Homo sapiens: one gene and its partners. The protein of the gene in region 4 purifies or fractionates together with the protein of the main gene of each other region. This does not show direct contact. Each region holds a gene or a part of one and is shown on either strand. Other genes may lie near its edges.

Region 1 (9,210 bases), on a different chromosome or scaffold from region 4:
ATAGCATTCAATATTGGCAGAAGTATAAATTTACTCAACCTTTCTGAAAAGTAATTTGGGAGTAAAAAAAAAAACCATAAAGGGTTTTTTGTTTTTTGTTTTTTTTAAATCCACTAGTTTTCATTCTAAAATAATGGGACCCTTTTTATCCAGTAATTTTCATTTTAAATATCAGAACAATAGTTTTTGATCTTGATGGAATTCAACAGAGATATTCTTAGTAAATGTTCAGAGGTAAAGAAAGAATTTAATATGAACCATTTTTGGAAAACAACGTCCAGGTACGTATATGTATATAAACCAGAAGGAAATGAACCAAAATGTTAATAAGGGTTATTTTTGGCAGTTTTATGGTATTGTAAACTATTTTAATCTTGTTTTTTTTTATATGAATTATGTGATCAGAAAAAAATATTAATATTTAGTTAAGAGGAAAGCAAATAAATTGTGCCTTGGTATTTCACATCTCTGAATAAAAATAGTCTCTCAAACCTGAACAAATACTGTCTTGGTTATCAAGAATAATAATCATTTATTTTTCTTTTTTCCCAGTGTTGCATCTGAGCCAAGAAAACTTTATGAAATGCCAAAATGTTCCAAATCAGAAAAAATAGAGGATGCTTTATTATGGGAATGCCCAGTGGTAAGATTTGTTTTTAGAGCGTTTGTTTCTAAAGCATTTTTAGCCTAGAAGAACCAGTTATTATTAACATATTGCATAAAATAATACAACTTAAATATCATAGTGACTCTTGCATCTTTAAAGCAATCAAGATGAGAGTATATCTTTTATTTTCCTCATGAAATAATTTCTGTATTAAAAATACTAATATTATGAATGTGTTTTTAAAATTAGATAGATTTTTTTTAGATCCTGAAAACTAAAAAGTTATAAATCGATTAAAAGTTATATAAGCAGCATAAGCTAATGTATAATTATCTTAGTGTTTAAGAGATCATTCCACTCAATATACTGAAACAGTAACAAAGTATTTAGAGCAACAGTTATTTTACGTTATTTTACGTGTTAGGAAAATAATAAAAATAAAATAATAGGATAAGCTCATTTCATAAGGCTAGCTTTGCCTGGGTGTATATTTTTCAAAACACTGTTTTCATGGAATGTTAACGGGTGTCAGAGGAGTTAGGGGGAATTGGGCTGTGAAAAACTAAGTTTGGGACATTCTGAGTTTAAGACTGTAAACATATCTATTGATAGAATTACTTCTCAGAGCCTTTACTAATAATAATAATACAATAATACTAATAGGTATGATGATTATCAAGCCATTTCCCCAAATTCTTTTGATCATAGAACTTCCTTGTTTAAGGAATATTTCTAAGTACAGGTTGAGCATCCCTAATCTGAAAATCTGAGATCCAACATGCTCCAAAATTCAAAACTTTTTGAATGCCGACATGACGCCACAAGTGGAAAATTTTACACCTGCCCTCATGTGACAGGCACAAAATTTAAAATATTATGTAAAATTATCTTCAGGCTACATGTATAAGATAGATATGAAACATAAATGAATTTTGTGTTTAGACTTGGGTCCCATCCCCAAGATACCTCATTATGCATATGCAAATATCCCCAAATCCAAAGAAATTCAAATCTGAAACACTTCTAGTCCCAAGTGTTTCAGTAGGAGAAGGGATAATCGACCTGTATTTGTTTTCTATAGGATCAGTGCTTATTCTAAGAAATGCACTTAGGAAATACTACAACAGATTAATCAGGTCTTTGAATCTGATTGGCTGTCCTTTAGGAAAAACGGAACTCATAATATGTGACCAAAAATAATTTTTAAAGGATAAGAGGCTGTACGCTAAATTTATTGTTAATTTTTTTTTCAGGCTATCATTTTTACATAAAGTTTTAGTTTTCTGGAGCTGCTGCTTTCTTTTTCTCTGAATACTTATTGTCTGTTCACTGAAGGCTCCTATTTAAAAATTAGAAAGCTTTTAAACCTATGTTTTCTTCTTCAACTCCTTATTGAAAGCTAAAAGTAACTGTTGTGCCTTTAGCAATTTAAAGCTTTTTGATCCATTTTCATTGGGGAGTATGGGGGAAGACGACAGATTTCTTAATTGAGAAAGTTTTTAATACACTAGTATAAAACACCAAAAATTTAGTAACCTAATTCCTATTCTCACTATTTTTTTTTTTTGAGACGGTCTCTCTTTGTTGCCCAGGCTGCAGTGCAGTGGCGTGATCTCCACTCACTGCAACCTCTGCCTCCCAGGCTCAAGCAATTCTCCTGCCTCAGCCTCCCAAGTAGCTGGGACTACAGGCACCCAGCACCATGCCCCACTAATTTTTGTATTTTTAGTAGACACGGGGTTTCACCATGTTGGCCAGGCTGGTCTCGAACTCTTGACCTCAAGTGATCCACCCTCCTTGGACTCCCAAAGTGCTGGGATTACAGGCATAAGCCACCATGCCCGGTCCGTATTCTCACTTATTTTTAAACATTTTATTCTCATTTCAACTGCAGCAAGATTTTCTCTTAAGAAAAACCAGGAGCATTTTGAATTGTTATTAACACACTGATATGAAACTACTTTTAAGTTAGTGTCCATCTTTTCCAAGACTCTGTGTGAATTACAGCTTTTTGTTCAAGAAAATATTTCGAACGTATTATATTTGCTGCTTCAAATTATTTTGATAGGCAAGTTATAAATAGTATATTTTTTAAAACTTAAATTTTTTTAATATATTTTTTTAAGACAGGGTCTCACTCTGTTGCCTAAGCTGGAGTCCAGTGGCACAATCACAGCTCACTGCAGCCTCTACCTCCTGGGCTCAGGTGATCCTTCCACCTTGGCCTCCTAAGTAGCTGGGACTACAGGTGTGCACCAACAAACCCAGCTAATTTTTGTATTTTTTGTAGAGGTGGGGTTTTGTCATGTTGCCTAGGCTAGTCTTGAACTCCTGGGCTCAAGTGATCTGCCCGCCTTGGCCTCCCAAAGTGCTGGGATTATAAGTGTGAGTCACCACGCTCAGCCAAAAACTTTTAAATCTTCATGAAACAACATTTAGATAAGACGTTGTAGAATAAATGCATTTATATCATTGCCCTGAATCCAGTGTAAGACTTCAAGGGTTAATAAACTTAAAAAAAAAATCTTATAGCCAGTATTTTAAGAAACTTGATTATACTTACGAAAGGAACATTGTTTGTTTTCTCTTCTTTTAAATATGGAGAGGTTTAATCCTTTACCTAACAAAGGAATTAATTTTAGCAAAATGATTCATTCCAACCCTCTTATAAGAAATATCTAGGAGAGTGGCCAGGTGCGGTGGCTCACGCCTGTAATCCCAGCACTTTGGGAGGCCGAGGCGGGCAGATCACGAGATCGGGTGTTCAAGACCAGCCTGACCAACATAGTGAAACCCCGTCTCTACTAAAAATACAAAAATTAGCCAGGTGTGGTGGCACGCACCTGTAATCCCAGATACTCGGGAGGCTGAGGCAGGAGAATCGCTTGAACCTGGGAGGCAGAGGTTGCAGTGAGCAGAGATCATGCCACTGCACTCCAGCCTGGGTGACAGAGCAAGACTCTGTCTCAAAAGAAAAAAAAAAAATCTAGGAGAGTCAACTAAGAAAAATAATGAATCTAAGTGATAAACATTCAGGAAATTCTCTAAATAAGAGATTTATTTACAGTCTTAATATCTCAGGGTTCTTTTTAGGTTTCCAGGGGAAAAGAGCAGGATAACAGTGTGGAGACTGCTAAGTTGAGAATTTAAAACAAATGAGAACATAAGATTTTTAAAATTGCATTGTGAATGTAACATTTTTTATCAATCCTTTAATCTCACTCTTTTAGACATATTGAGAAAATGTTAAATAGAAAATATTATGAAATTTTAATAAGATGTTTCAGATCTTTGAGCATGAAAAATATAACAAAAAAGCCTAATTTCAAAAAACTATTTGAGATCAAGGGACAATGGTGTGACCAATATGAAGGGTCAAGACTGAAATGTATTGTCTTTACTATCAAGAACTCTACTTTCAGTTTTTTCTCGGACAGTTAATTTCAGCTTCGTAGAGATTTCTGACCAAATTAAGGAACACTGTTTTCCTGGGTTTGTTTTGGGTATATGTCATTATAGTTATGTTATTTCTTACTGAAATTTATAATTGTGAGTTTTTTGTATTGTTTTAGTATTTAGTGGTGTATAATGTGTTATTCAATTATATGTAGTCATACAAAAAAAAAACACTAGCATACAAACAAAAATTATTTTTTTCCTTAACATTTGAAAGGCAAGACAAATTTTTAGGGAGCATATATAAAATAACTATGTCTTCATTCTTTTCTATTCACTTTTTGGCCTAAGCAGATACTAGATTAATTTCAGCCTCTCTTTACTTTCTTTCTTTCTTTTTTTCTTTTTTGAGATGGAGTCTTCTGTCGCCAGGCTGGAGTGCAGTGGCACGATCTCAGCTCACCGCAACCTCCACCTCCCGGGTTCAAGTGATTCTCCTGCCTCAGCCTCCCAAGTAGCTGGGATTATAGGCAAGCACCGCAACGCCCAGCTAATTTTTGTATTTTTTTTAGTAGAGATGGGGTTTCGCCATGTTGGCCAGGCTGGTCTCGATCTCCTGACATCGTGATCCAGCCACCTCAGCCTCCCAAAGTGCTGGGATTACAGGCGTGAGCCACCGCACCTAGCCACTTCTTTTTTTCCTTTTTATCTAGAAACAGAGTCTTGCTGTGTTGCCTAGGCTGATATCGAACTCCTGGGCTCAGGTAATCCTTCTGCCTCACTCTCTCAAAGTGCTGGGATTACAGGTGGGGACCACGATGCCCTTTTAGTCTACAAATTAAAGAAGAAAACTTTGCTTCTCTTTTTCTTCCTGCCTTAGACTTCCACCTTGTGGTGGCTCCTCAGTGACAGGAGTGCCCATGCAGCTATCCTCTCCCTTTTCTAGGATAATTCACTGGTGACATAGGTCATCTTTCAAACCAGGTCCATTTTCTGTACTTTGGCTGTCTTCATTGGTTTCTAGCTTTTCATTTGAGCTTAGGTTAGAACCACAGTGAATAATGAAGTAATTTGCATTTTGCCAGTTTTGACTTCCATCTAAAGGAAACAAGTCCTGTGGTAAAGGAAAAAGGGGGCAATATGAATGTCTATTCTAGCAGAGAACCCTTTTTTTTTGAGACGGGATCTCACTCTGTCACCCAGGCTGGAGTGCAGTGGCATAGTCATCACTCACTGCAGCCTTGACCTCCCAGTCTCAAGCGATCCTCTTGCCTCAGCCTCCTAAGTAGTTGGGACTCCAGGCACTCACCACCATGCTAATAGCAGAGGACTCTTAATCGCTATGCTATATACATGATTTTAAGAGCTGTTATTGTTGTTATTGTTATCACAGAGGTAGCATCATTGTCTTCTACTGTTATTATGACTAACATTTGTGAATACTTAATAAAATAATTAATTCATAATAATAAATTATTTCAGGCCATGTTTAAGTGCTTTATGTGAATAAACTCAATAAGTGATGATGAAATAATTACCCACAATCTTATCTTTCCTTGTCTTAATTCTCTAGTTGGGCATTTAATCTTTCTTTTGTGGTTTATTTATTTGGCATTTGAATATTTAGCTATTTTCTTTGGACATTGATTACTGCAAATTGTTCATGGCCAAGCAGTTTCATTTTTATATCTCTCTTTTTTTTTTTAGGGAGATATACTTCCCAATTCATCAGATTATAAGTCCTCACTCATAGCACTGACTGCTCATAATTGGCTACTTCGTATATCAGCAACTACGGGAAAAATCCTTGAGAAAATATATCTTGCACCTTATTGCAAATTCAGGTATTTACTGTGAATTTATTATTCAAGATTTTATTTTAAAAATTTGAAACCTGTGGCCCATGAAATTTCAAGCCTTTTTTCCCTGTCAGTTTTCTAATCCATTACCAGATCTCAATTAATAAACCTATTTTCTTTTTCTCCCCTCATGACTACATTTAGAGGTCTGAGTATAGAGACCCTCTATCATTTGTCTTTTTTTTTTCTTTTTTAAGACAAGGTCTTGCTCTGTCTCCCAGGCTGGAGTGCAGTGGCGTGATCTCTGCTTACTGCAACCTCCACCTACCAGGTTCAAGCGATTCTCCTGACTCAGCCTTCCCAGTAGCTGGGATTTTGGGTGTGCACCCCATGCCCAGCTACTTTTTGTATTTTTGGTAGAGCTGAGGTTTCCCTATGTTGGCCAGGCTGGTCTCAAACTCCTGACCTCAAGTGATCTGCCCACCTCAGCCTCCTAAAGTTCTGGGATTACAGGCGTGAGCCATCGTGCCCAGCTGTCATTTATCTTTGTATCCCTAATAAGTAACTAACCTGTAATAGTTTAAATAAACTTAAAAAAAAAAATTCCCTGTATTCTACAAATAGTATTTTCTATGTAAGATGCTCTTTATGGTAGATTTTCCTGAAGGCTAGTCTGTTTCAGTTAAATTGTCTGCTGTGTACAATCCAAGAACTGTTATTTTAACTATTAGTTTTATAAATTAGATGTAAATGGAGTGAATATGTTCATGGAATGTGTGAAAGTAACATTTTTAGTGCTTTTTATACTTCCATTTTAAAGTAGAAATGATTATTTTGTTTTCTAAGTTTTGAATACTCTTAGATCGAAAACAATTTTTATTCACCAATGCTCTAGAAAGATTAAAATTATGTATGTATTTAAATAGGGATATGTCCATATGGGGATATAGAGGAAATTTTTTTAGCTATTTATTTTTTAAAATAGATCACTTTGCTTTTATAATTTAAATAACTAAAAAATAGTTTACTTATAAAATATAATATTTTGGTTTTAAGTATAAGGAAACTGACCCAAATAAATAAACTTCTCTTCATTCTTTTAAAAGATACTTGAGCTGGGACACTCCTCAAGAAGTCATTGCAGTTAAGTCAGCTCAGAACAGAGGCTCAGCAGTGGCCCGGCAGGTATACATATTTAAACATTCAATAAAATGAAGACTCTTTTTCATAGGAATTTGTCTGCAGATTTGTTATGAAAAATCTAATGATCTTTTATTTCTGAAGCATGCTGTAAAAGATAGGATTCACGGCAACCTGGATGGGATCGGAGACCATTATTCTAAGTGAAGTAACTAAGAAATGGAAAACCAGACATTGTATTTTCTCACTCATAAGTGAGAGCTAAGCCTTGAGGATGCAAAGGCATAAGAATGATACAATTTACTCTGGAGACTCGGGTGAAAGGGTGGGAGGTGGGTGAGGGATGAAACACTACACATTGGGTATAGTGTATACCACTCAGGTGATATGTGCACCAAAATCTGAGAAATCACCACTAAAGAACTTACTCATGTGACCCAACACCACCTGTTCCTCAAAAACCTATTGAAATAAAATAATAATAAAAATATTTTAAAAAAGAAAAGTTGATAGGTAGATTTTTTTTTTCTGAAGCGTGCTATTTAAAGAGATTTTTCTCTTAAAGAATTACCCAGGATTTACTAGATTTTATAAAGTCTGGAAATTTATATCAAGAAACTTTTTGTTTCTATTGGTGACTTATGGGGAAATACTATGGAAAGCATTTATTGAGCACTTAAAAAATAGATATAGACTGCTTTTAGAGGTTTTCTGTTTCTTTATACACCGGGACACCTAGAAAAAGCAAATACTTATTTTGTGTCTCCCCTTGGCAGAGTCTGTTGTAGTTCTTTCTCATTTTTAATTTGAACTACTTCAGCTGTTTCTCACTAGTGTCCTTGATTGCAAAACAGGCAGGCACTGATCTGAGTTCTTTACCTGTATTTACTAATTTGATCTTCAGCACACTCCTTTCAGTAGATACTTTTATCATCCCATTTTACAGGTGAGGATTCTGAGCCCCAGAGAAGCTAAGTAACTTATCCAGCATCATAGTGTTGGTAACCTTGGCTCAAACTCAGGCAGTTTAGCTCTAGAGTCCCTGCTCTTATGCACTGTAGTAAGCTGCCCCTTCTTGAAATTTCTGTAATATGGACTGGCAGGTGAAGTTTATATAGAACTCTAGCATTAAAAAAAAAAAAAAGTTAAGTAGTTCCTTTAATTTTACCTTGTTTAGATAACTACATCAAGCATTTCCTTGTCAACCCTCCAGTGTATTCCCATACATGCTGGGTCTGTGAACTCTGCTTTTCATTCCTCCCTCATCTCTCTTGTCTACTTTTTCTGTATGCCCCTGAAGCCAAGCAAACTATTTGTTGGCTACTTCTACTTACTTTTTATCATGGTTATCTGAATGTTTTCCTACCCTTTACTAATCCTGCCCAGTCACATTAATAACTTAACTGCATGCCTTTTATTGGAATCTCCTTACCCTTTTCCTGATTTATTTAGTATGACATCTAAGAAAGAGAGATGCTATCTCTCTCTTAGTAATACTTCTCTCTTTATACTCTTACTACCTTGCTTTTACTTTGGTAAAGGAAAATTCAGAAAAGTGGGATAGTATAAAAAAGCAAAACATTTTGCTACTTTGAGAATTCTAAAGTGTCTTGTCTGATGTACCTTTTTAATAATTTAAATTGCTAAAGAGCAAGAATTTTTGTTTTGTTTTGTTTTGTTTTGAGACGGAGTCTCGCTTTGTTGCCAGGCTAGAGTGTCGTGGTGAGCTCTCAGCTCACTGCATCCTCTGCCTCCCAGGTTCAAGCAATTCTCCTGACTCAGCCTCCTGAGTAGCTGGGACTACAGGCGTGCACCACCAGGCCCAGCTAATTTTTGTATTTTTACTAGAGACGGGGTTTCACCATGTTGGCCAGCATGGTCTCGATCTCTTGACCTCCCAAAGTCCTGGGATTTACAGGCGTGAACCACCACTCCTGGCTAAGAATTTTTTTAAGTTTAATTCTATACGTTATCATATGTTAATGTTTTACATTTACCATCACCTGATAATGTTAATAAAATCTTGTCAGTATTTCTATATTCTGGACTGTTTTCCTACAGTCTCCAGCCAACAAGTAGTAGCTCTTAGTTGGGGTATATAAACTGTACTTTTCCTTTGGGTTTAAGGAACACAGAAGGAGTCTGATTTACCTTGAAGATATTAGTTCAATAAAAATTTATCCCTTTGGAAGGGAGAATCTTTTGGGCTTTAAGCATTACAATCTTTTTTGTTTGCTGTTTATTTGTTTTCTAACTTTTAGTTATAGC
Region 2 (7,383 bases), on a different chromosome or scaffold from region 4:
GCCTCATCTCCAGAACTGTAAGATAATAAATTTCTGTTGTTTTAAGCCACCAAGTTTGTGGTAACTTGTTGCAGCAGCCATAAGAAACTAAAACAAATGGTCAAATCACTTCGGAAAACTGGTAATTTCTTCATAAGGTTAAACAAAGAACTCCCCTATAACTAAGCAATTCTACTCCTGGGCATTACCCGACAGAAATAAAAATGTAAAGACTCTTAGGTGAATGGTCATAGCAGCTTTTTTTGACAGAAATGAAAATGGAAAGACTCATACATGAATGGTAAAAACAGCTTTTTTCATAAGAGTCCAAAACCAGAAACAATCCTAATGTCCAGCAACAAGTGAATGAATAAACAACATGTGGTATCTCCATACAGTGGGCCACTAATTTGCGATAAAAAGGAACAAATTATGGATACATACAACAACATGGATTAATCTCAAAAACCATTATGCTGGCCAGGCACAGTGGCTCACGCCTATAATCCCAGTACTTTGGGTAGCAGAGGCAGGAGGACGGCTTCAGCCCAGGAGTTCCAGACCAACTTGGGCAACACAGCAAGACACCATCTCTATTTTGAAAAAAAAATCATTACGCTGAATGAAAAAAAGACCCAAAAGTATACACTGTATGCTTCCATTTATATGAAATCTAGAAAATACAGATGCATCTACAGAGACAAAAAACATATCAGTGGTTGTTTGGGGGCCAAGGTGGAGGGACAGACTAACCACAAATTAACGAGAGGGAACTTAGGAGAGAAATGTTCGCTATGCCAACTGTGGTGGTTTTGCAGGTATATACATTTGTCAAAAGGCATCAAATTGTACACAAAAATGGTTGCAAATGACTGTATGTAAATTATACCTCAATAAAATTGATTAGAAAAAGAGAAGATAATTCATGAGCCATTGGACACTTTACATTTAAGATTTAAAACAACTACTTATACTTTGTTCTAACAAATAATATTAAGCAAACAAATTTTAAATGAACAGCCAATTTTTTAAAGAAAAAAGGAAGACAATTTGCTCTACTAATTCAACATGTTTCACAAGCAGAAAATGGGAAAAGCCTTGAATTTGGAGTCAGAAGACCTGGCTCAGAGCACTAGTTTCACCTAGCAACCAAGTGGCCTTGGGCAAGTCACGATTTACCTACAAGTCTCAGTTTCTAAATCTCTAAAATATGGATGACACTAGTAACTCCCTCACAGGCAATGGTTATGGTTTCAATAGAGTAAGAGCTTCTTTGGTGCAGTGATTCTATTTCAGCCAAAATTATAATCCCAACTTATGGCAAATAATAGGTGCTCAACAAATCTTCACAGAATAAATGAAATACTTTAAAAATAAACCTGAAAGATGAGAAAGACATCATGCACAACACCATGAGGTGACATTTGTTTCTTTGCACTGTGTAGACTAAAGCAGAAGGGTCGCCCTCTTTGTGCTTATCTTTAATATATTATCCACATCATATGCAGACTCAAGCATGAAAACTTCTGGTCCCTTACGAAATACTGCAATAACTCAGGTCAATATAGAGCAGATTTTATATTTTAAATCCTTAGGTGTATTGCCCTAAACAGACTCACGTGTAAGATGAAATTCTATGAAAGCAAGAACTGTGTCTACGTTATTTAACACTGTTATTCACTGCCAATATTTGCCTAACATAGAGTAGGCAGCAAATGACATGTGCAAAGGCCCTGAAGCCCGATAAAGTATAGTGAAGAGTGACTTTTAAGAAGGCCAAAGTGACTGGTAGGCAGAGAGCAGAGTGTCATATCCAATGGGGTTGTGAAAGCAGGTAGGGTCCAGATCATGCAGGATCTTGTAGGCAATGTGAAGTTTTGCCTTTATCCTAAGAGCAACAGAAAGCCATGGAATATTTTTAAACAGGTGGTTGGCAGAGTAAGGAGAAAGGAAAGGGACATAATTATATTTGCATTTCACGAAGATCTTACTCTATGGTGTGCAGAAGAGAATGGTAGTTGAGGGAAGGGAGAGAAGGTGGAAGAAGAGTTAAGTTAGGGTGTAGAGTGAGTGTAGGCCAATCAATAGGCTATTCCAACAGTCTATTAAAAAGATAATGGTAGCTTGGTCCAAGGTAGTGGAGATGAAAAAAAAAAAAAGTGGGCATATTCCCAATATACGTAGACAAATCAACAGGATCTGAGTTTGGGAATGAGAGAAAGGAAAACACTCAATGCTTCTGAGCCTCAGTTCTTCATCTGTGAAGCTGGGCTGTTATTTATACTCCATCTGTATAATATCTATCTTGCAATCTGCTGTGACAATGATATGAAATAATTTAAATATTATGCACTTAATACAGTGCCTGACCCACAATAAATGCTTTTTAAAATCTCTGTTGCCATTATTATGGTCATCCCATGGAATGGCAACTACCAGAAGCTGAACATCAAAGGTAGAGAGGAGCAATGTAGTTAAAGATTCATATCCACAGCGCTAAAAGACACAAACTGTTATCAGCCGGTCACGGAGACAATTGTTCCAAAGAAACACAGCTGACTGCACAGATATTTCATCTAAGCCGATCTCAGTCCTCAGAGACCATTATGAGAAAGCACAGCTGGTATGATCACAGTCATCTGAGAATCCGGTAAACTGAGGCACAGGGATGGCGACAAATTTAACCAAGGAATAGATGCAGAAGAAGGACAAGGAAATGGGTATCTTGCTTCTCATTTTTGAGCCGATCCAACAAGACTCGGCCTGCATCCTGAAGAGCACGAATTTGTAACATCCCCTCTAATATCTCCAGGTCCCTTGCTGACAAGGCCCTGTCATCCCTTAGTTTAACACCGCGCATCCGCTCGCCATCAAACCAAGCCCTTCCGGTTCCCTGATCCTTGCTCACAGCGCACGAAGATCTCCAGGCCCCGGGAGCCCGACATACCTTAGCTTCGCGCTCTCGTTCCTCGGCAGTCGGGGTGCGCTTCATGCTGCCACTAAAGCCGCCTTCGCCACCGCAAGCTGCGTAGATCCCTCGCCCTGGACCCCGCCTCCTGCATGTAGTTCTCTCAGCGTCCTGCTCCCGTCTGGAGCTATTCTCCCTCTGAGTAGAAAAAACTACAACTCCCAGGATGCACCGCGGCGACACCCGCGAGCGCCACGGGATTTAGCACAGGAGAATTTCCCAGGTCCGACAGCTGGAAGAGCGTAGTCCGCTACCCCGCGAGCAAACAGGCTAGAGTCCAAGGAGAACTACATTTCCCAGGAGGCTACGGGAGCCTGCCATGTTTCTCCCGTGCTCCTCTCGGCCAGCCGCCCGCCACGCTGTCGGCGCTATAGCAACGGTAGCTAGCTGCAGGGCCAGTGGCACGGTGAGTACCCGGGAGGATGGGGGAGGATGAGGGTGGGTGGAGGTTGCTGACCCTCCCCACTGCAGCGCGGGCCGGGGTCCTAGGGTCCGCTCTGCCGCCTGGAGAAGGCCCTGGAGTTGGCCCTGGAGTTCTGCTGGCGTGAAAGCAGCCCAGCCCAAGACACCTCCACATCCTCAGGCCTGAATCACAGGCCGCCCTTTATCCCCACGTCCAGGACCAATTTGAAATGTTATATCCCAGCCATGAAGGTGAGAGTTGATGCTGCTAATTGCCATCTCTATCCAGATCCTGCAAGTTGTAGGTCCCTAACACAGTTTGCTCATTTGCCCTGGATTAGGAGTTGGTTGGTAGACCCTAAACCTCCTGAGTGGTCTATTGTTTGCTTAATTATATATTATTTGTTTATCATGTGATTACCTCCATAACTTGCTAGCTTCATAAAGGCGGGGGTTTTGCTTGCCATTTTAATCTCAGTACCTGATATTCATTTATTCATTCAATAAATATTTTTTCTTTATTCTTTTTTTTGTGTGTGTGACAGGTTCTTGCTCCGTTGCCCAGGCTGGAGTGCAGTGGTAAGACCTCAGCTTACTGCAAACTCCTCCTCCCAGGTTCAAGCGATTCTTCTGCCTCAGCCTCCCGAGTAGCTGGGATTACAGGCGTGTGCCACCACACCCAGCTAATTTTTGTATTTTTAGTAGAGACAGGGTTTCATCATGTTGGCCAGGCTGGTCTCGAACTCCTGGCCTGAAGTCAGCCGCCCGTCTCGGCCTCGCAAAGTGCTGGGATTACAGGTGTGAGCCACCACGCACAGCCAATCATTCAATAAATATTAATGTTGGTTCCCACCCTGTACCAGGCACTGTTCCTGAACAGTTGTGAACAAGACTAATACCCGTCTCAAGATGTTTATCCTTTTTTAGTGGAGACAAACAATAATTTTATCTGATAACTTCAGATAGAGGCAGTTGCTATAAGAGATACAAGCCATGCTTGGTGGCACGCACATGTAGTTCCAGCTACTCGGGAGGCTGAGGTGGGAGGATCACTTGAACCCATGAATTCAAGGCCAGCCCGGGCAACATAGCAAGACCCTGTCTCAAAAAAAAAAAAAAGAAAAGAAAAGAAATAAACAGTGAAGAAATGTAAGGAAGACTACTCTAACATAGGATGGTCAGGGAAAACCTGTCTGAGGAAGTGAACTGAGCTCCAAAGATTAAGGAACCAGCTAATACAAAGGCCTTGAGCAAGACAAGGGTATGGGGGGTTCGAGGAAAGTAAAGAATAATGTAAGTGAAGCATAGTGAGCAAAGAAGGATAACATAAGATGGTGTTGGAGAGGCATTGCAGCATTGTGCAGGGTTTTTCAGCTTCTACACTATTATTAACATTTTGGGCTGGATAATTCATTATTATGTCTCCTAAGCACTGTAAGATATTTAGCATCATCCATGGCCTCTACTCACTAGATGCCAGTAGCATCCCGCTTCCTTGTTGTGACAACCAAAAATATCACCAGACACAACTATTAATACTTTCAACTACCACCTTAAGTGAGTTAACTAATCTGTGTCTCAGCTTCCTCATTTGTAAAGCAGGAATCATTTGAGTAACAGCCTCACAAGGATATGGTGAGACACTTCATTCCTATAACAGAACACTTAGAACAGTACCTGGCACATAGTAAGCGTTCAATGAATGTTAACACCATCATCATCATCATCATCATTATTATTTTTAAAGTGACCTTAACTCTGTCATGGAAAACTAATCATTTTCATACACGGGCCTATGTGTCAACAGGATCCTAAAAATTGACCTTTTCTATAGGAGTACTTCCAAAAGAAGTAGATGATCTCCCAAGGATTTGTCTGTTAGCTGTTTCTGTAAAAGCAAAATGCAATGGTTCTCCACCATTTGCGAGTTGTAATAAAAGTTATGAACCCTCTTTAAAAGATATTGCATATATACATATACATACAAAATTTGGTAAACCATCTCTGGGTTCACAGACCCTGAAACCCCATGGACTCCATTCACTCACTCAACAACTATTTAATGAATGCCTGCTCTCAGAATGCACCACGCTCTATGCTAGCCTCCAAGAATACAGAGCTGAACAAGACAATGAAGCTTGCTACTGTCTTGGTCTTTACATTCTAGAACCAATATCCTAGAGCTTAAGAACTCTGCCCTTTAGAGTATCTTCATTCACAGTTTGCATGTAGCTTACTAGGTAGATTGAAATGAAAATATAAAATCCTTTATTTTTGCATACTAGATATTGTGTGGACCACTCACATCCATACTCAAAATAGAGTTACTATGGTGTATTTCTGTAAAGAATAGAAACTACAAAAATACTAGAATTAGCTAGAGAGCCTATATGTTGAAGTAGTTGAACCCTGGGTGAGACCTAGGCCTCATGGCAACAAAGGCAAGACACACACACAAAAAAACACAAACCCAGTTGGTAAATTTATGCAACGAAACCTCTTTCACAAAACTCACAAAATGCACAGAACTGCCCACTCATTTGTACATCAAGCAGACAATATTTGAGTAATATTGACATCCCAGGCACATGTGATCAGTGCTTTTAATTTACTCATCCCATTTACCCTTAGAATAACTCTCTGAGATAGGTATTATTTTCTCCATTTTTAAAACTGAGAGACTGAAACTCAGAGAGTTTAGGTGGCTTGACTAGTTTGTTAATGATAGAGCAACCATTTGAATCAAGTTCCTGACCTGAGTTTTTTCCAAGATATCTGCTTTCTTTTGGAGGCTGGGGAGAGGAAAGGGATGGAGAGGAGGTATTTCTTAAATGATAATCTTACTTCATTTCCTAAGCAAACTATAGGAAATACACTGTTGAAAGGAACACTGTCTCCATGACTGAATGTAGTAGTACTATTAGAATAGAAGCTTTCATCTTCTCCAAGCAGCACATGTGGACAATAAGATGCCCATTAAAGTTCTAGTCCCTTTTTCGTTTTATTTGGTTCATTCCATTGCATAGTTAATGTAATAATTTGGAAAGAGTTTATTTGAATTTTCTTTTTTCCACAGCTAGGCCATGTCTGGTCCAACTGATGAGACTGCAGGAGACTTGCCTGTGAAAGATACAGGTCTAAACCTCTTTGGAATGGGAGGGTTACAAGGTATGGCCAGCTGTTATTTATTACAGTTATGAACTTTGATCACTGACTACTTTTAATTTAAAGTATTTCTTATACTCATACAAACCAAACCATTTAAGTAACTATATAGTCCTTGATTGGACTAAACAAAAAGATGGAGAGTTTAGAACACATATGGTATTTTACTACATGCATCAGTTATCAACAGCTCATAGAAAATGTACAGTCCCCCCTCTGTTCTGATAAAGAATTAACATAAATCATCTTTTTAAAATTCCTCACATCAGTAGAAACTACATAGAGAGTATCAAGCCTCCAAACTGAATTGCCTGGTTTAAATTACATTCAGTGTTAAAACATTTCTTTGTGTTTAAATTTTATATGGGAGGAAAGGCCGTATTTTAAGTGTTTTGCCTTTTAAGTGGAATATCTCACATGATAGTGACTTTTTTATCGAATTAATATGGATTAAAGGTTTTCTTTATCCTTTTATCACTTAGTAGTTGCTGTAGAGCTAAAAAGCACTTTCAAATTGAGAAAGAAAAGCACTACTTTAAAGAACAATTTAGAACAGAGAGCTGTGTTTATCTTTGTGTGTCCATTGTGTCAGCTATGCTGTCATGCATGTATCGATTATCAACAGCTCATAGAAAACGTAAAATCCCCCTCTAGCCTGAGAAGGCTAGGGATTTAAGATACATTCCATTTAGGAATCTACATACACTTTTCAATCAGAACAGTGTAAATGGCCACTGTGAAAACCAGAAAAGTGGTCAATGTATTGTTTATTGAAAAAGATAAAATTTGGCTACACAGAAATTTTTTTTTTTTTTTTTTTTTTTGAGACGAAGTCTCGCTCTGTCGCCCAGGCTGGAGTGCAGTGGCGC
Region 3 (9,210 bases), on a different chromosome or scaffold from region 4:
CAAGATATGACTTTTAAGATATATAGGCACAGCGGCTTATGCCTATAATTCCAGCATTTTGGAAAGTCAAGAGGAGAGAATTGCTTGAGCCTAGAAGTTCAAGGCTGCATCAAGGCTGCAATGAGCTATTATTACATCATTGCACTCCAGCCTGGGTGACAGAGTGAGACCTTATCTCTAATACACACACACACACACACACACACATATATATATATACACACATACATATATATATGTACACACACACATACATATATATGTGTGTATATGTGTATATATACGTGTGTGTGTGTGTGTAATTATTTTCTTTTCACCCATCAGGTTACCAGTACTGGGGTTATGAGTGTAAAGTAATATAATCACTTTGCAAGTTGTGAGGTACTGTAGATTATCCCATTGATACACTTTAATCCATGTTATTTTTTAAAATCTCCAATGTATTCTCAAATTATTCCTCTTTACAGAACCGAAGTGCAGCTCCCCACTTCAGGTAATGTGATTCTACCCTTTGCCTGAGAAACATATCCATCCTAATTGCCATGTGCTCAGCTGGACCACTAGAGGGAGCCATCCTGTAACGGGTGAGGTCAACCTAACAAATGGTATCAGTCGAGTATTGATCGGAGGCCAACGCAAGAAGTTACCAGTAGCCTATTTCAGATTTATTAAAAAACACATAGGTAACGAGTCAGAGCTTTGGCTAGGAATGATTTGGAAAAGAACTGAAGGCATAATTCCACAGGACATTCACAGTTGTGTGCTAGAGACAGAGAGGAGCAGGAAAGTGTTTTAGAAGCATTTGCGGTGGACAATGGAAGGCCCGGCTTCATCGTATTCCTGTTTGCTGATCCACATCTGCTGGAAGGTGGACAGAGAGGCCAGGATGGAGCCACCGATCCAGACAGAGTATTTGCGCTCCGGAGGGGCAATGATCTGTCAGTCAAGATGAAAAAGAATGGTCATTAATGTCATCATTAGTGCAGTCGTTAGTGCGGTAGGACAGAGCCTGGATGTTCTACCATGGCCTAGTTTCTTGTTCAGCAGGGACACAGGCTTGTCTGTTAGATGCCAATTGTGTCCTAATTGTGTCATGTTCTTGGCAGGACCGCCAGAGGGAGCCATGGATTTAGAAATTCTTCAGTAAGCACATTCGTTTTTCTCACCTGTAACTCTTCGACCACATTATTGAGCAAACTGAAAGTTGGCTCCAAATCCAGCCATGGCCCCCACTTAAGAACCCTGGCAATGCCTCTGATTTCCATGAACTCTGCCTCAGAATTCAACACGATACACTTTCTGTAGAAACAAACCCTAGCCTATTCAAAGGAGAAGTTTTAATTGTGCTAGGACTTAGTATACAAATGTGTTTCCACGTGGTGAAGTGAACTACCACTTTTCACCCAGATGCTCTGTTTAACATTGGGGAACTCAGGGTCCCCTGCTGGGGACATTCCCTTGCAATAGGTGCCTCTTAAGCTGCACTGGTTGGCCTTTCCCAGTGCACAGGCCTAACCTGCAAGGCATGCTCATGTTTCTTAAATAAATGAATGGTTTAGGCACAGAGAACAGTGAAAACTGGCTAACCAGTTTAATCTTTATCTTCTGAGCATTTACTTCTTAATACAAAGTACTGATATTTACTGAGCATGTAATTATATGCCAGGCACTATGCTAAGCATTTTACATGTATTATCTCATTTGATTCTCATAAACATCTTGAAGAATAAGTCTTAAATTACTCCCATATTACATATGAGGAAACAGAGGCTGAGAAAGTTTAAGTAACTGGCCCAGGTAACACCGGTTATATCAGTGTCAGATCTGATATTCAAACCTGGGTTCTCCCAGGTGGTTTTATGTTTTGGTTTGGTTTTAAAAATAACCTTTTTATTTTGGAACAATTTTAGATTTTCAGAAAAGTTGTAAAGAATTTAGTATAGTTTGGATATCTCCTCCAAATCTCATGTTGAGATGTAATCCCCCGTGTTGGAGGTGGGGCCTGGTAGGAGGTGTTTGGATCACGTGGGTGGATCTCTCATGAATGGCTTAGGACATCTCCTTGGTGATAAGTGAGCTCTTCTTCCGAGTTCACATGAAATCTGGTTATTTCAAAGTGTGTGGCACCCTCCCCCCACCCCTGCCCTCTCTGTTGCCCCTGCTTTTGCCATGTGAGGTGTCTGCCCCTGCTTCGCCTTCCACCATGATTCGAAGCTTTCTGAGACTGAGGCCTCCCCAGAAGCTGATGCTAGAGCTATGCTTCCTGTACAGCCTGCTGAACTGTGAGCCAGTTAAACCTCTTTTCTTTACAAATTACCCAAGTCTTAGGTATTTCTTTATAGCAACGCAAGAACAGCCTATGACAAATTCTATGGGAGTTCCCATAGGTCTCTCATCCAGTTTCATTTTTGCCAAATGTTATCATCTTATTGTCCTAGGTTTTTCTTGGTTCTCTATACTATCTCATTACATCGGGGCCCAGAGTTTCACATTAATTTCTATTCAAGAAACCAAGTTTAGAGAACTAGGAACTGCCCAACTCTAGCAATAGCCTCTTTCTGTTATCGACCCTCATGAGATCAACTCAGTAGTGAGCCCAGCTACTGGCTTCATTCACCTCCCTCTTGTGTGGAAGTAAGGGGGGTAAGAGCTGATCAGAATGGCATCCAAGAAACACAAACGCTGTTGGAAAACAGTCTCTCTTCTCTCATGCTGAAGTCTTTTAGGGCAGGACTAGCCAGAGCCTATCATGGAGAGAGAAAGTGTGCATGTTTCAGTCTAGCACACTCTCTAGTGTTAGCTGCATACTCCTTCTAAAAACAGAAGGGAGTGCAAAGAGGAGATAATTTGTTTAAATACCCACGTGTGTGAACTGCACTAGAATTGCCCCTCTACTTCCTGTGACATGGGTCAGAGGGTCCCAAGTGTGGCCTTCTGACTTCAGAGAGTGATAATAACCTTTGAGAAGTGACCCAGCCACAGGTTAAGTTTGCCTCCAAAGAATTATCTCCATTTAATCCCCGAGTTCCCTTCACTAGGGCTCAACATTCACACCACATACAGGGGTCCTGGGTGGCTCAGGGACTGAGCTTGGTCATCCTAGAGTCATTCTGTGCTTTTGAGCACCTGTACCAAAAGATGTGCTAGACAGAGGAATGAGGATAAAATTTGAATTCTTGGCCACAGGATTGAGGTTAGTAGTGGAGGAAGAGTATAAGCTCCTCCTAAATCTACAGTGTTTGAAGTTCTTCAGAAATAAGTCTAGGTCATCAGTATTTTTAAAAAATGTGTTACATGCATGATGCACTATTTTTGTGTCGAGAAAAACAACAAAATGCATATTTTAAAGAGAGATGAGCATGTGGGGAGCTCTGTTGACTTTGACTGCAGCTACTGAAAGTAGCTGACAGACAAGGATAAATAGAGATCAAATTTTATATAAAGTAACTCAATTTTTCTTATGAACTAGATTGACTTACATCCTGTAAAATATGAGATTTGTGTCCATTACCTACCCCTAAAACCCACAATTGCATGTCACCAAAATACAGTCTCTGAAGAGTTCTTATCTGTGGTTATAGGGCTGACACTGCTGGCGGCATTGCCACTGGGTCTGTCACTGAACAGTACCTTGATCTTCATGGTGCTGGGTGCTAGGGCCGTGATCTCCTTCTGCATTCGGTCGGCAATGCCAGGGTACATAGTGGTGCCCCCTGATAGGACATTGTTAGCATAGAGGTCCTTCCTGATGTCAATATCACACTTCATGATGCTGTTGTAGGTGGTTTCATGGATGCCAGCAGACTCCATCCCTGGAAAAGAGACACAGGCCATGGTCCTTAAGTGGAGAGTAAAACCCAGGCTAGACATGGAAGACCAGACTTGAACATCTGGATGATCTTGCAGTGGACTGAGGCTGGGAAGACATAATAATCTAGGAACCACCTGTCTGAGAGACAAAAGGGTCTTGTTATGCTCTATGTCTTCCTGCCTGCCTTCTAATGAGGAAGGCCTGCTGCAGCATCCTGAGGTGTGGGCTACAACAGGTATCACTGATTTTTTAATAGACTCACTACTCACTCCATGTGGTTTAAATAAGGGATGAAGCCTTCCAATTCCCTGCAAAGCTTCCACGCTGAGCCAATGTTGCAACAACTCTTCAGAGCTCTCCCAGGTCTCCATTTAACAGCTACGTTGCATCTGCCCCAGCCCCCAAAGCTAATGGGGCTGGATTATCAGGGAAACTTACTCTATTTTTTATCCTGTTGGAAAAGGCTCATTTTTCCAATCTTGCTAACATTTTTTTTGGGTGGGGGTGGGGGTCTGGACTTTTGTTAATTTCTGACGCAGGTGTTTTCAAAAAACCTCTAGGTGCCCTTTCATCTTCTGCAGTGCTGTGATGTAATGATAACGTTAACAATAGCACTACCTGATTATTAATTACTAGTGATATCTGATAATTATTGAATGCTTGCTTTTGCCAGGCAGTGGGCTAAGTGCTCTTTATCTATCTCCTGTAATTCTCACAGCCATCCTAGGACATAAGTAATATTACAGTCTCCGCTTTATACATGAGGAGACTAGTTGGGAGGTTAAGTGACTTTCCCAAGATCAAGAGAACTAAGACTGAAACCCAGGCTCACCCCTCTCAGAGCCTGCCTCTGTAAACAACTATGCAAACCTGTCTCTCCAAGACAATGTGAATGTAGGAACAGACTCACTTTGAGTGCTCTTCTATTTTTCTCTCCCCCAGCATTCCCAAATTCTCAGCCTTCAGCACACCCTTGCTACCCTTTCCGCTGTCTCCAAAGCACAGGCATTATTTAATTCTTTCATCATACACCATGAATGCTTTGGGCTTAACTGCAACATAGATAGTGTTTTCTTAGGAAGAAAACCTTTTTCCTGGCCTCATTATGTCTTCTCGCCTTGAAAATGTGGCACTTTCCCTTTTTCTGGTTTAGAAATGCTTTTGGTCTTGGGGCAACCGTCACTTGTCTCCATGTTCTGGAGGCTGGCTTGATATGGAAGAAGACAATGACTCCCCTTCCCAGGAAAAGGGCGTTTGTTGCCTACCGATGAAGGATGGCTGGAACAGGGTCTCTGGGCAGCGGAAACGTTCATTTCCGATGGTGATCACTTGCCCATCAGGCAACTCGTAACTCTTCTCAAGGGAGGATGAGGATGCGGCAGTGGCCATCTCATTTTCAAAGTCCAGAGCTACATAACACAGTTTCTCCTTGATGTCCCGGACAATCTCACGCTCAGCTGTCAACCAGATACAAACATTGTGGCAAACATTAGGGTCTGCACAGGTGGCAAAGATTCACCTGCCCTACTGCAGTCTCTCCCTCAAGACATGTGCCATCAAAAAATGTGTCAGTTCAATATTCTGCAATCCAAAATCCACAATGATAATGACGTAGTAGGGCCACCAGGGAACCACCTCTGTTCCTAGGACAGTGTCTCATGCATAGTAGGCCCTCAGCATGCATTGTCTGGGAAATGCATAACAAGAATAAAATGAGCTAGCTAGAGAAAGGCACACAGTAGCGGATCCTTTTGTACCATAACATTTTTTGGGGTGGGTGGGCAGGATAACTACTCTGTGTTATAATTATTTTATGACAGAAAGTTTGTTATATTGTATTTTCAGTTAACCAGGATATCTTATGCTGAATCAGCTCCTCAGGGGCCTCACAATTTTCAAAAAGTCTGAGATCCTGTTGCCTGGGCCAGTGGATAGCAGGTTAAACCTTTGGCACATTTCTCACCCTCCAGGAAAGAGGTGGTGCTGTCTCAGGACCAGGCCTAGTCCAGAAGGTTTCAGCGGTGCATACTGAACGAGATACGGAAGAAGTGGGCAGGGAGAGACCTTTCAGACTTCTGCTCTCTGAAGTTCTAGGCTATTAATTATATCTGAGGCTCTAGGAACCTTTTAGAGGCATCTTGGGATTCTTTGTAGGGAGCAGAGGAGGAATGCAATTATTCAACTTCATATTGCAAGTGGAGACTTTAACATTGGCAGGGTTCAAGTCTCAAGCCTCAAATTTGGAGCATAAAATAAGCCTCAGGCATGTTCAGAAACCTAAATGTTTGGACAATACCAAATTGCTAAGGGGAGGACAGGTAGCTGGAGCCACCAGCACTGAGGACATACAATGTTTCTGGCAATGCTGACACTTTCCTCTTGTGAAGGGAGGACTGGGTGCACCGGCTTAGAATCTGAATACACATATGTCACTGTGTTAGCTATTAATAAGTATCACTGTTAATAGCTAACAATTATTGAATGCTTACTCTATGTCAAGTATTCCACATGCGTTCTTCCATTTAATACTGATAACAATCATGTGATATAGGGTCTATTATTATCCCCATTTTACAAATAAAGAGACTATGGTTGGTTAACTTGTCCAAGCTCACAGAGCTACTGAGTAGCAGAGTTGGGACTCGAGTCCTATCACAATGTCTCCTGCCAATCACCACACCATGCCATCTTCAGTCTCTGCACAATCTTCTTCTATTTGCTAATGGAGGGGATTAAAAAAAGATCAATTATACAACACTGACTAATGCATAACACTGGGTGTCTATAACTGTTCTCCTCAAGGAAATAGTGTAATCATTTTGCAACTTCACACAGCAAAGAAAGATGTGCTTTGCTCTGTGCATTAGAGCCAGGCCTTGCCATTTGCAAAACTTCATCCCATCATCTCCTTGGATAGTGAGGATGGTCCTGGAAGTTACTGAGCAACACACTGCTCCCCTCTCCCCCTTATCTCCCACAGGCCTCACCAGTAGTAACGAAGGAATAGCCACGCTCAGTCAGGATCTTCATGAGGTAGTCAGTGAGATCTCGGCCAGCCAGATCCAGACGCATGATGGCATGGGGCAAGGCATAGCCCTCATAGATGGGGACATTGTGGGTGACACCATCTCCAGAGTCCAGCACGATGCCTGGGAGACAATTGGGCGTGATAAGTCACCATGGCAGCTGGCATGTGGTTACTTGCTGGACAAGTAGAGGGAAGCCTTGGGGGAGAGGGAATTTCCGAGCCTCTTATTTAAAAAGAGAAAACAGGGCATGTGATAGGAGAGGTGAGGTGGGACAGGGCTCGGGGAAGATGAAAAAAAGTAAAGAACAGGAAGAGGAAAACAGTAGAAAAAAGTTCTGCTAGAAATATGAGATCAAGGGCTTATTTTGAACACTAGAAGAAGATCTTTTAGGGCTGGGTTCAGCCGTGTCCATTCTAACTCAACTCCAGTCCGTCACCCCCACGTGTTAACGACCATTCAATCCCATCTCTGGCAGTGCGCTCCAACCAGCTTGCTGTCCCGCCCAGCCACCTACCAGTTGTGCGTCCAGAGGCATAGAGAGACAGCACCGCCTGGATAGCCACATACATGGCTGGGACATTGAAAGTCTCAAACATAATCTGCAAAGCAATCCAAAGAGCTGAGTTAGTGAAGGTGCCCATCTGACAAAGAATGGTCAGGAGAGCACACCTGGTTGATGGATGCAGAGGGGCCTGACCTGTTCTGGGCAGAGGAGGCCAAAGTAAGGAGGTTCAGAACAGCCCTGGTCACGTTAAAGAGGAGAAATGAAGGTGTGAATGGGGAGCCATCACATCAATGGCCTGACAGGGTGGGGAGGGGAAGAAACAGTGTGCACACAAGGTTTGGCCAGGGGAAAGGAAAGTCCAGCTTCTGGCTCTGGTCCTGGCTTTGACTAATAGTCACCAAACTAATAGTTGATTAATAGTGGCTTTATTCCAGGTCTCTTAACAGAGGAGGAGTTTGGACTAAATGAGATCTCCCATTTTTCCAGTGCAGACATCCTAGGGCTTGTTAACTATGTCAAAGCCAGAAGAAAAAGAGAAGACAACATCCAGGTTTTGATTTCCCTGGTATAAAGAAAGAGAACTTTTAAATCTGAAGCTCAGGCTGGCTAGGTTTAGCCCCATTTCTGTGATTTGTCTGAGGTTCTATTTAATCTATTCCACTTTTTTATGTAGTTACTGGGTCAATGCTAACCCTAGAATCTGAGGCCATTCTGGTTGCAGTGGGAGAGGCCCTGGTTCCTGGAAGACAGGACCAGCCCAATGGTAATAGAGGACCACATAGAATGTCAGTGCCCCAGTTGGTGCAGTCCAGGGACAAGATTAGAACCAAGCCCCTCCAGGTCACTTGTGAGAAGTTTGTGCATCAGGAGATGTCCGTGGGTCTTCATTTCTCCATCTGTAAGACCCTTCCTACTCTATTAACCAGAATGTCTGACATCATTTGCTAGCAAGCCATAATTTCCAACCATTTTTTTTTTTTTGCCTTCACACCACTGACAGGAACAATAATTCATCAGAAGCAACATCTCTTGCGACGTGCAGTGATTCCCAGGCCCACAGATGTTCCCCTGTAGAGAACAAGTGCTAGTGGGTTGGTGCAAGCACCAGGAGCTCTTCTGAGGAAAAGGCCTTGCAGTTATTTACATTTATGATTCTTCAATGCTGGAAGATCGTGGATCAATCCCAGGCTTTGCCAGTTCTAGCTGTGTGACCCTGGGAGAATTACTTAATGTATCTGAGCCTCAATTTCTTCATTTATGTAGTCAATATAATCATAGTTCCTGCTTCACATTGCTAGAACTTAAAGAGACAATGAATGTAAAATGCTGAGCCCAGTACTTGACCATAACAAGTATAGAATTGACACTAGACGTTGTTATTTAATAGCTCTTCCAAACTAGAAAACTCAGAGCTCTGTCTGGTGGGCTGGATGGGATTCTATTGTGAGGTCTTTAGCTTCAAACAAGTAATAATAATGACAATAGTAAGTACTATATTTTGGATGTTTATTAGGAACCATGATACACATCTGTCATTTCACCTCATTAATGTTCACATCAATCCTTGGAAAAATGATAGTATTAATATTACTCCCAACTTATAGACAAGGAAACTGAGGCTCTGAGAAATTAACGGAGTTCTTTAAGGTCACATAACTGATAAGTGGCAGATCCAGTTTTCAAACCTAGATATGTCTGACTCTGGAACCCAAATTCCTATTGTATGTGATGCTGCATTTTGAAGTGACTTCTCCTTAGACATTATAACTTAAACGTGGCCCCTTCTCAGTGAAATCTTTTAAATTTCCTATTGCTTTTGGAGGCAAAGGGCTGGTCCCTGCAGGAAGGATGCAAGTACTTTCAAG
Region 4 (5,297 bases):
TGACCTTTTAATTAGTTGGTAAACTTAGAAAACCAGGTAGGATTTTTGAAGCCCTGAGTTTAAAAGAAGAATCGTGGCTATTTGACATCATCCTTACATTCCCCTGACTTAAAAAGCTAACAAGAAGCACGAGATCTTCCACCTCATTTTAGAAAGCTTTTCTACAGAACTATATGCTTGCTTATAGCTACCTATCTACAGTTTGAACAGGGAGAAAGGGAGATATGTATGTCTGGTTACATCTTCCTTCACTCTTGAATTGGCTGGGACAGCAAGCAACAACAGTTTGAGGTCCAGTGACCTACGTAAAATGAGTGTCGTTTGTGTCAGGGGACACATGTAACTGTGCAACATGGTATTTTCTACAGGGAGGGCTAGGAAGGGTGGTTTTGGAACCTAACCTACTTTGTGTCTTCATTGTCAGAACTAAGGTTGGAAATGCCCTTTAAAGAACTTGGTGAGGCATATGCTAGGACAATAGAGCTGCTTTAGAAAGAAATTGAGACATGTTTTGTCAGGACAGATAAAAGTTTAATGCAGGCTTTTGAACAGATGTTTTAAAACAAATTTGACCTTACCAACTATTTTTTTCTTCTAGCCAAATCATTGTACAGGAGTTTCATATATGATAAAAAGTGTTTTGTTATTGTTTTTGCTTTCTTGGCAGGGGAGAACCCCTACCATTGTGAGCAGTTACTGTCACTCTGGCTGAATGGACAAATAGCTGTGTAAATAGCTTCTCATAAAACGCTTCTACTGATAGCTGTTTGACTTTTTCTTCCCGTTATGAATGGGAGGAACATTTGTAAACTTCCTTTCTGGGTAGCTACCAAAAAACGTACTGGCTTATGGTCCCATGTGACCTTGTCTCCGTTAAGCCCAGAATCTGAGTGCCTTTAGCAAGTGTTAGCATTTCACAGAGAGAAGAGAGACAGAATTATTGCTATTAATCACCATTCATAAATAGGAGCTTGGAATAACAAAGGTCTGTGTGAATTCTGTTCTACGTCTTTTTTTTCCCTTTTTTAAATAAATGTCAATTTGATATCAAGTAAAACTATTGTCATTATTGATCAGAAACCATACATTCTGAAAATGAATCCAGTTTTCCCAAGCTGGCAGAAGTCAGAGATCATTTTTCACCTTGATCTGTGTTGCGTTTGTACTTAGTGAATGGCAGTGTGGTTGATTGGAAGAGCTTGACACTGATGTTTGGAAAAATTCTTTATTCTAGTGGTCATTTTCAAACTTGTCTTCTGTAGAGAGGGGAAAAATTATGTATTTGCAGCTAAAGCGAAGAGACTGGCACAATAATTATTAATTGTGTTAGTTCATTTCTATATTAAATGAAGCATCTTCACAAATCAGGTTTGAAGCCATTAAAAGCAAAATTTTCCCTAGTTTAATTAATTTAAAATTCTAAATTGCCTGACTACTTAGAATCTTAGAAACGCCCTGCTAGACTGATTTTATTATAGAAATGTTAACATGTTCCTCAACATTTTCTCAAGAAAATTTTCAGACATATATCAAAGTTGAAAAAACTTTGCAGTATAACCACTGCTAGATTCTGCCATCAACATTTGACTATACTTGTATTGCCATGTATCTGTTCATATTCTCTATCCCTCTTTTCATCCATCGATCCATCAGATTTTTTTTTTAAAGAACATTCCAAAGTAAATTTTAGGCAATACACTGCCCTAAATTCTTAGCATGGGTGTCATTAATTAAGGTTTAGTATTCGTTTAAATATCTATTTTGAAAGTGGTGTATGAAGTTGATAATCTGAGCCAATTAACATACTTTTTTTTTTTTCCTCCTGTGGACTTTTGTCTTCCAGTTTCTCTTTTTGTGTGTACTTAGGGTGAGGGAGGACAATTCCTTTCAAACACAAGTTTATTTTAGAATTGGTCATTTTTAAGTGCTTGTCATAAATTTTAAAGTTTCAATATAATTTTTCTTTTCCCCACTTCTGATAATGTATTTTTGCCAAACTATGCAGCTTCTTCAAAAAACTGTAAATTACTGATTGGGGTTTATGAAATCAGCGAATACCTCATTTCAATCTGTTGCTGCTTTTCTCCCTCTTGTCACTTCTCCTTTCACTACTTTCAGCTGCTCTACCAGAAGGTAGAGGGGAGTAAAGGGTCAAACCCCTATATAATTAGCTGTTTTAAACAACTCTAGGAGAGCAGATTAAGTAGCTTAGTAAGTTGAAACTATTAATTTTTCTAAAGAATTTGATTTGAATTCCTTGAGAATTGTAATTATCCACACTTCCTCCAGCTATAATTAGCAGAATTAAAAATGATTGTACTGTACAATGAGTTGTTGAAATTGTAAGCCTTAGTAACCATCTTTAGCTTTATTGTAGTCATGTTTAGAAAAAATTATTTTTACATATGCCTTTATTTTTATGCCCACTTTTTGTGGATAAGATTCTTTAGATAAAATCTAAAGAATTTTAAGTGACTTTCTCCAGGTCATGAAGATTCAATGGGTAGAATTGAATCAGAATTGAAATGTTCCAGATTCATATTCTTGTGTGTGTTTGATAAAATTCATGGCTTCCAAAGTAACTGAACACTTCCTTTGGGCCCTTGGAGGGAAAATCCATATTTTTACTAATTACACTTTTTTTTTTAGACATCTGGCAGTTCTTTGAACTTAAACATATTCTCATGGCCATAGTTCCAAATTAAGCCCGACGCAGTTGCTAAAAATCTTGCTGCACTGTTGAATACTAATAATGCAACATTTATTGGATGTTTTTGCATTTTGATGACCTTCATGATTCATTTATAAGTCTTTGTAAGTGCTTAAGTGACCCCCTCACTAGTGAAAATAATAAATGTTCTATATCATTTATTATTATTTGTGTATTCTCTACATGATATATTTTTTTAAGGAAGAGTAACTCCACATGTCAGAATGAGTGATATTATCCTAGGGCAAAGCGCAAATAGGGCAGTTTGTTTCTACTCTGCAAATATGGCATGTATAGGAACAAAACTCTTTTGGAGTGGCTGGTCATTGTTCTGCCCTCTTTTGGTACCTGAGTACCTTTCTGGGGTTTTGTAAATCGTGTGTCATTTGTAAGAATTTCACGTTAACTCTGCGTTACTTGGTGTTCACCTGTGGTATCCTTGACTGACCATAATGATTTAGTTTGGGTATGATGTGTCTGCTTTGAAATGCCTTACTGGAGTATGTCAGATCCTGCTTTAAAGCATTCCATATATCTGCTGGGACAATAAGTTGCTTCTCCTTGGAAATATGCTCTAGATTCAGAAGCAAAACCGATTTTGCTTTCACCATTAAGGTTGCATTTTAATGCAGTTATTGTTTTAAATTAGAGAATAAAATGTAAAACCAAGGGAGGCTTTAGAACCCTTTATTGAATGGCATGGCAAACTTTTAAAACTGCTTTTGCTATTTCACTAGAACTATCTTTGATAAAGGATATAGCTAAAAAATGTCAGCCCAAACTGTGTGTAATTAGGGTTGTTTATTAAAATTTTCTCTAAATGTCATACAGAGGCTTAAGATCTGTGTATGCTGTTGGGTCGGAGTGCCAGTCACTGCTTTGGAAGTCTGTGTTCTGGGGCTGCAGAATGACAAACGTGTCATGGGATTAAAACCAATCAACTGTGAATTGTGAAATTGAAACTACTCTTTCGGTTTTATTTTCTTTAGCATATTGAGTATAGAAATCTGAAACTTATTTAAAATTTATACTGCTTTTGTTGATGGCTCATTTTGGCTGTGTATCCTCACTTATGTACTGATTTCTGATAAAGGCTTGACATTATTATAACACGCATTTTGTGTTCCAGTTTAATAAAACGGTTTCTGAGTCTTGTCTGAAAATTGTTTGGTTATGAGTTGAAGATCAAGGGAAGAAGGTAAATTGTCATCACTGAGACGTTATTTTGATGCCGATTCTCGATGACTGTGGGTTCTCCATTCATCAGTCTGCACACAGTCTGCCATGGTCTTCTGGAAATCATGCAAGTACTGTAAGCTTTTAGGTTGGCAGTAGAATCAACCTAGCTGCCCACACTGCCCGTTCTCCCCATCACTGGAGTTAGCCTGGGACTGGAGTGAGTTCTCAATTTTGTTGGTAGATTTTAATATTTATTTTCCCTTCAAATTTTAAGAAAGTTGGCCTTAGTACCATAAACACTGCTGGAAATAAACACATTATTAAAAAGCATATACCCATTAATCTTTTGGGGGTGTTTTACATGTAAAATACTCTTACAAATATAATCAATTTATATATGCAATATAATTGAGATGTGGTCCTTTAAACAGCCTGGTTTTCTGTATACAGTGTACTTTTGAATTTAAATGCTCACTTAAAAAAGTAGATTATAGGCTGTAAGATGCTGTTATGCTTTAATTAATCAGGATGCAAGACACATACCCTTACTGTTGTGGGAAAAATTCTTCGGTCTGCACACACAAAAAATGTTTCTGAATGAAGTGAATAGATCACACTGAATTTGTGTGTTGTAAAGTACTCAAGGCATCAGCACATTTTATTAAATCATCTCCAGGAGATTCTTAGCTTTAAAAAAGCCATGATAATATGCACCAAAAAAGTCTTAAATGATTTCAGATTTTCAGCCTTTTTAAAGGCATTTCTGAGGCTCATTCATTGGCTGAAAATCTATTCAAGATCAAATGCTGGGTGTTATCCTTTATAATTTCTTAAAGGGCTGGTGATAAAGTTTCCCAATGTATGATAAATTGATATAAGATTATAAAGATCAGAAATAGATCTTTTTATGTGAGTTTTAAGATTTTTATCATCTGAGTTGAGGCTTAAACCACAACAATTCTTAGTTGTGGGATCTTCATAACTTGAAAATTAAGAATTACAAAAAGATGAAGACAGTTAACTATTGTGTAACGTGAATATTATTTTAAAGGGATCTGATTATGAGTTCTTACCAAAAAAAATCCCCTAAAAATACATTTCATGGTTTTTAATCTTCAAGTCTGTGTGTGTATGTGTGTATATATATTTAGGGGGAATGTATACTAGGAGGGAGTTTATGGAAACATGTTTAAGATGATCATATGCTAGTAATGAAGTGTGTCCAAAGGAACAGATGTAAATTTGCCACTGGAAGAAATACACTCCACCATAGGCAGTCTATAACTTATGCTTGGCATTTTGGATAAATCTTTAAGTATGTAATTAGAGCTTCAAATGTGTTTTGGCTGGAAGTTGTCCCTCTAGACAGGAACAAGATGCCTTTCATATTAGCTTCAATTTTTCATCT

What was found.
Region 1: the proteins of ZMAT3 (region 4) and DCAF17 purify together in Homo sapiens (affinity purification with mass spectrometry; 3 studies listed by BioGRID and IntAct, with this or other methods). This does not show direct contact.
Region 2: the proteins of ZMAT3 (region 4) and FTO purify together in Homo sapiens (affinity purification with mass spectrometry; 3 studies listed by BioGRID and IntAct, with this or other methods). This does not show direct contact.
Region 3: the proteins of ZMAT3 (region 4) and ACTA2 purify together in Homo sapiens (affinity purification with mass spectrometry; 3 studies listed by BioGRID and IntAct, with this or other methods). This does not show direct contact.

What each region holds. Positions count from the first base shown.
Region 1 is NC_000002.12:171,442,971-171,452,180, forward strand, and holds part of DCAF17 (DDB1- and CUL4-associated factor 17), read left to right. Parts: intron 1-552; coding exon 553-643; intron 644-5,710; coding exon 5,711-5,847; intron 5,848-6,908; coding exon 6,909-6,987; intron 6,988-9,210. UniProt on the Homo sapiens protein: May function as a substrate receptor for CUL4-DDB1 E3 ubiquitin-protein ligase complex.
Region 2 is NC_000016.10:53,699,773-53,707,155, reverse strand, and holds the start of FTO (alpha-ketoglutarate-dependent dioxygenase FTO), read right to left. Parts: upstream 3,001-7,383; 5' UTR 2,972-3,000; coding exon 2,927-2,971; intron 1-2,926. Other genes in the region: RPGRIP1L (protein fantom), read left to right, coding at 6,433-6,517.
Region 3 is NC_000010.11:88,934,431-88,943,640, forward strand, and holds the end of ACTA2 (actin, aortic smooth muscle), read right to left. Parts: intron 7,440-9,210; coding exon 7,355-7,439; intron 6,961-7,354; coding exon 6,799-6,960; intron 5,545-6,798; exon of another isoform or gene 5,269-5,544; coding exon 5,077-5,268; exon of another isoform or gene 4,965-5,076; intron 4,047-4,964; exon of another isoform or gene 3,813-4,046; coding exon 3,631-3,812; intron 1,144-3,630; exon of another isoform or gene 937-1,143; coding exon 793-936; 3' UTR 644-792; downstream 1-643. UniProt on the Homo sapiens protein: Actins are highly conserved proteins that are involved in various types of cell motility and are ubiquitously expressed in all eukaryotic cells.
Region 4 is NC_000003.12:179,015,799-179,021,095, reverse strand, and holds the end of ZMAT3 (zinc finger matrin-type protein 3), read left to right. Parts: 3' UTR 1-3,873; downstream 3,874-5,297. UniProt on the Homo sapiens protein: Acts as a bona fide target gene of p53/TP53. May play a role in the TP53-dependent growth regulatory pathway. May contribute to TP53-mediated apoptosis by regulation of TP53 expression and translocation to the nucleus and nucleolus.